Regions from separate parts of the Homo sapiens genome. Here region 2 is linked to region 1. A link means that fine-mapping ties the variant in region 1 to the expression of a gene that starts in the linked region. Tissue or cell type: fibroblasts. Region 1 holds a variant in brackets; the other region holds the start of a gene. All regions are shown on one strand. Distances are from middle to middle.

What was found. PIP is the estimated chance that this variant, and not a neighbour inherited with it, causes the effect.
Region 2: ACP6 starts here. The variant in region 1 is fine-mapped to the expression of ACP6 in fibroblasts (GTEx, PIP above 0.99).

Annotation. Positions count from the first base shown.
Region 1 is chr1:147,634,744-147,637,652 of GRCh38, forward strand. It overlaps a transcript of ACP6 not described here. Among named protein-coding and RNA genes, the nearest start is that of ACP6, 34 kb to the right of the region's middle. The variant G/A (reference allele first, on the strand shown) is at 1,350.
Region 2 is chr1:147,669,078-147,671,986 of GRCh38, forward strand. It overlaps ACP6 (acid phosphatase 6, lysophosphatidic), which reads right to left and starts at 1,447. Exons shown (of 10, transcript NM_016361.5): 1 at 753-1,447. The coding sequence starts at 971. RefSeq lists enhancers at 295-1,238, 450-509, 1,150-1,399, 1,840-1,909.

The DNA.
Region 1 (2,909 bases):
ACTGTGGATGCAGCAGTGAACTGGTCAGGAGTGGTCCCACCCTGAGCTCATCAAACCCAGAGTCTATTGAAGAAGTCAAACACTGAATAAGCAATTATAAGCACAGTCATGGCATGAAAGAAAAGGAAGCTGCCCACATTGAAGACAGGGAAGTGCAACCTAAAATATTTTATCAAATTTCCTGAGAATCTTCTATCTACTGGTCTGTTAACCCAAAGGAGAAAGGAAATAGTTCAGCCAAGTACTAATAATGATTGCTGCTTTCTTTCCTAAGTGCTCCACAGACTTTTCCTTTGTTTAAAAGTCCACTCTAGACCAAGGAGCTCTCCAGTCCTTAAATTCTGGAGTCTATCATTTTATGGGTTTTAAAAACTAGGGCCACATTTGCCTTTGTATTTTGGTTCTTTGAGACTAGAAATCTGAGAGTATCTTCATTTCTCATAGATTACTGTCTGAAGTGACATCTATAACTTAACTTTTTATCTACTCCAGGGTATTACCTACCAAATAGGAAGATCCGAACTCATTGACATCAACCAGGTGCTGTCCTCACTGCTCTAAGATTTCAATCCCTCCCAGCAATCTTGGGCCATTTGTGGCTTAAAGGTAGATTCTGTTGTTAGGAAAGACTTACTAGGAAAGAGAGGGATTTGGATTTAACTGCTTTCATTTTCTCTCTCTCCTCTATTAAATCTTCTCCCCCAGACGCTGAGCCTATCTTTTACTTCTTCATTACTTTTTTTCTCAGAATACAGCTTAAGAGCCCTTAGCTTCCTCTTCCTGTCCCAATCTTGCCCAAGCTTCTAGTATTATCATGAGTAAAAATTAGGGAAGTTGGGGAGAAGTCCTTGTTGGGGTTGAGGGAGTGTTGAGTATGAAATGATGAAGTGGTGTCTATGTGTGGACAGTTGGAAATAAGAGACAGGGATGAATGAGCAGTTTGGACTAGATATGGAGATGTGAATTCCTCCACATGGAGATGAATATAGATTATTTCTCTATGGGAGTGAGAGAATAGAGAGCCAAGTGGAGGGCCAAGAACTCAGTCATGAGGGATTGGCACAGTCCGCAGGCAGGAAGAAGTTCCAGCAAAAGAAACTGAAATTCACAGAATAGGAAGAAAACAGAAATGATCTAGCCCACCTCTCCCATCTAACTGATGAGGAAATGGTTGTCCAGATAAAAATGAATCAGTGACTAAGGCAGCTATGAAAATATAGAGTTGCATAAGTCCTGAGGGGTTGGGGGAGTGGCTTTCAAGAAATAGGAGGTGGTCCACAGGGCCAAATACTTCTGATCAATCAAAAAAGGTGAGGAAACTAACGATGGTACTTGAAATTGATTAATGT[G/A]TTGGTCTCCCAGAGTGTAGCTGTGGTAAAGCAGAAGACAGAGAAACCTAAGCATGTGGGGGAAAGGGTGTAAATGTGAAAGAGGCAAAGAGATACTGAGTTATACATGCTCAGTACGTTTGGCAGTACCAGGCAAGAGAAATAGGATGGTTAGATAGAAGAAAAATATAAATAAGCAAAGTTTAAGACAACAGAAGTACTACTAATTTAAGACAGAAAGGAAGGAACCAATTGAGTGGGAAGGATTGAGGACACAAAAGAAGTCCTGCCATCTTTGGCAGGAAGATCACAAGAAGCGGGACAGGAACTGAAGCACAGGTAGCGGTAAGCTTTGGGGAAAGAAAGATACCAGAAGTGAAAGGAGAAAGGTGCCATGTGTGATGAAGCAGATAAAGCAAAGAGACAAAGGGACACATCCCGGAAGCCAGATGTGCAGATATGGAAGGAAAACATGCTGATCCTCAGGTCAAAGGTGAAAGTTTGAGTCCTGCCTCTGCCTCTCCCTGGATATTTGACTTTGATCTCTTTGAGCTGGCTGCTTCACATTTGGATGTCATAGGCTTTTTGTGAAACTGTTATCGGACAACATGTGTGTATGCCTAGTATGAGTTATCAGAGCATTTTTGAGAGATGCCTTAGGCTGTAATGCAAAAAGATATGAAATGGCTGCTCTGGTAAATTAGAAAGCTCACAAGATACACCAGCTGGGCAGTAAGAGGGTTCTAGCTGAAGCAGAAAATCATGATTCTTCTTTCAGAAGGGACACCCAGGGACCCCTCTTGCTGCCCTCCTGGGCACTGAAAGGTAGCACAGAAAAGCCATAGAGAAAGAAGCACCACAGTGGAAATTCCATGATGGGATGGTGGTGGCCACAGCAGGAAGGCATTTTCAAGAGCTACTGGAGTCCCCAGGCCCAGCCAGCCCAAGGTGGGGATAACAGCAACACTTTAATAAGGTTACACTGGGGTCACCAGATTCTCAAGCACTTCTCTCCTCCTGCTTTTAAAGTTCAGAATCATCTAATTAGAGGACCAAACTCCATCCCTGACCACATGAAAAGCAAAATGAGGCCTGACTCTGACTCAAACTGTTCACAGAGAATGAAGGATGCTGTGGAATCCTAGAACTTCAGATTCTCATGGTAGGCAGGGACTGGCCCGTGTGTGACCCTCTACAATACTTTGCCTAATGCCAGTGTAAGCTTATAAAAGAACCCTCTAAGGTAGCCCAATTCATCCATGGTCAGCTCTGATTATTTCAAAGGTTTTCCTTATGTTGATCTCAAGTCTATACATCCCTGCAACTTACACAATACTGTTCTGCGTGTGGTCCTCAGTGCCCACATAAATCAAATATTTGATATGCCCTCTGTCTCTTTGATCCCTTCCTCTTGATGGTCTTTCTCCAATTGACAAGCTTGTCTAGCTCTGCTACCAAGTCTGGCTCTCAGATCTGAGAACAGTTCCCTGGCTGTGCTCTGAACTGTGCAGGATGGAACATCACTTCCTTCATTCCAGTACCAGGATAGCCATTGCACATTTAGGATTTTGAGGAACACAT
Region 2 (2,909 bases), 34 kb after region 1:
CAGGAAAGATAATCATTTTTTTTTAAACTATTTGTGCTTTAGTCATAATTATCCTGACAAAACCAGACAGATTTTTAAAACATTACTGCCACAGACTAGCCCATTTTAAATTTGTTCCGACCTCAGATCCCTCCCACTATAGGTTTAGTAACCTTAAATAGAAAAGGAGAACCCTAGAATACAACACTTGTTACAAAAAAAAACTTCAGGAGATCTCAAATGGCCTCCAGCAAACCCTGAGAAAAAGCAGTTATAAAGTTTGTTTCCAAAGGCAACGACCTCTTATCCACTGTAATCTCAGTTAAGAGTGGTTCCTATCACTAAAGTCCCTTCAGCCCTTCAGCTCTGACAAACCACCTTCAAAATGGTCACACAGAAGTGCACTGCACCCTTGTATTCAAGTTCACCTAGACCCTTAATAGAAATGCTGACCTGGGGCACTACTCCACACCTGCTGAATCAGAATCTGCAACGTAGCAGGATCCCCAGGCGACTCCCATGCGTCTTAAGCAGCGCTTACTGATGGCTGCGCCATCAGGGCAAAACTGGAAGTTCCGGGGCTGTCCTAACCCCAGCAGGTCCTTTGCTCAAGAGCCTGGGGAGTCACTGGCTACTGCTGTTTTCCCTTCTTCTGGACCCAACCCGAGCCCCGCTCCGCGCGAGTAAAGCTCTGAAGATGTGTGTCAGGGCGAGACTCCTGGCCTGGCACACGGTCCTCGCCCCACCAGCCCCAGCCCGGGCCGACCTCTCACCTGCTCCTCCAGCGGGAGCGGCTTGAGAGGACTCCGAGCCCCGTGTCGAAACACGACCTGCACCATTTTCAACTTCAGCAGGCTGCGGTCGACCGGACACTGGCCATCGGCCTCCTGCAGCTCGGCCAGGGCCACCCGCCGCTGGTGCAGGCAGTACGCCAGCGAGGTCAGGACGCCCACTGGGGTCCACAAGCGCATGCTGAACACACCAGTGATCATGGTGGTAGGCCCTCGCTGCCCTCCGGGTTGAGGCTGCAGGAGGCAAACACAAGTCTTCTGCGGGCGCCGGGGCTCAGCGGGCGCCCCCAAGTCCGCGGGAACCTGCGGATGCGTACATCCAGCCCTTCAGCAAGCAGGGACCGCTGTGCCTCCCGGCCCTGAGGGAGACCCCGAGTGGGAACGGGGGAGAGAACAAGAGGTGGCAGCAGCGAAGAGTCCCTGGGAGTTTTAACCCGGGTCGGGGTTGGTCGCTCCTGCTGCACACCGGGCCGGGGGAGATCGGATCCTTATCTTTTGCCCGACGAGGAACATTAAACTTGTATTTCAAGTTTGGCCTCCAGCACTCTTGAAGGAACAGGAGCCGGCCCTGAGTTCCCTGGCGGCAGCGGCTCCACCAGCAAGGACTACTCGATTCCACTTTTCTATAAGCAAGCTCCTACCCACCTCCTCACCTACTCAGGGACCCGTCCCAAGTGGACCCGCGCACAGGAGCACGGGAAAACGAGTCCTGTGGTGACACCTCGCCTGGAGACTCAGAGCTGCGGAAACTACAACTCCCACAAGGCTGCGCGTACCGCGGCTCCCAAGAAGTGGCTTGTACCCGCCCCCCTCGCCTGCGGGCCTCGCCCCTCCGGCCCAGCCAGCCGTTTTCCAGGCGTGGATGGCCCACGGACGTGCCTGGTCCGGCAGTGGAGTGGTAGTGAATCTGTCGGGCCATGGAGTTTGCCAGGCAGGAGGATCGCGAGCGCAGGAGTAGAACTGGGTGGTGGAGGGGAGTAGTTTGAGTCTAGTTTTGAATGTAGAAGACTTCCTTCCAGTCCTGGAAGCCTGGTTGCTGCAGCGAGGAGCTGAGACACCTGCCGAGTGATTGCCATTTGCGAAACACAGCACTAGGTGCTTTATATTTAGTCATTTACTACTCCCTTCTCTGTTTTTAAAAAAATTCTCAAGCTTAAGTCATTGTAATCATGTAGAACTTTCAGGTCACTGATGTGTTTACTTCCATCCAGAATACTTCTTGTGGAAAAAGCCAGGCCTTGCCTGTGGGTGTCCCAGTGATTAAGAACCTAAGAGGCGCCATGGCTCACGCCTGTAATCCCAGCACTTTGGGAGGCCGAGGCGGGTAGATCATGAGGTCAGGAGATCGAGACCATCCTGGCTAACACGGTGAAACCACGTCTCTACTAAAAATACAAAAAAAAAAAAAAAAAAAAATTAGCCAGGCGTGGTGGCGGGCACCTGTAGTCCCAGCTACTCAGGAGGCTGAGGCAGGAGAATGGCGTGAACCCGGGAGGCGGAGCTTGCAGTGAGCCGAGATCGCGCCACACGACTCCAGCTTGGGCAACAGCGCAAGACTCCGTCTACAAAAAAAAAACAAAAAAAAACCTAAGAACACAGAACAATGCCAGCCTTACCACCTGCTAGTCTGGTTTCTGTTGATATACAGGTATCCCAAGCCTGTGTTTCCAGATCTTTGCAACAGGACACAATCTGGGACCCACTATGTGTCTATCTCCAAAGATCAAACTGGGCCAGATGTAAAGACAACATACTTACAGAGCATGGCTCCTGGCCTGAGAACAAATTCTGTTCACCAAGCTGGAAGGTTCTGAGTGCTCCCCTCCCTGATGCAGGGAGGAGGGTCATTTTGGAACACTACATATTGTCACAATTTTCTCCCTAGCCCAGCCAAGGGACTCACTTTTCAGAGTCTTATTGTGTGTGCTGATGTGATTAAAAATCGAATACTGTTTGCTATGGACTCAGTTGTGTCCCCCGCCAAATTCGTACCCACTAAGTGACTGCATTTGGACATAGGACTTTTAGAAGGTGATTCTGTCAGAGGCATTTGAACCATAGTGACTCCATCTTGAATAGCGGCTGGGTAAAATGAGGCTGAGACCTACTGGGCTGCATTCCCAGGAGGTTAGGCATTCT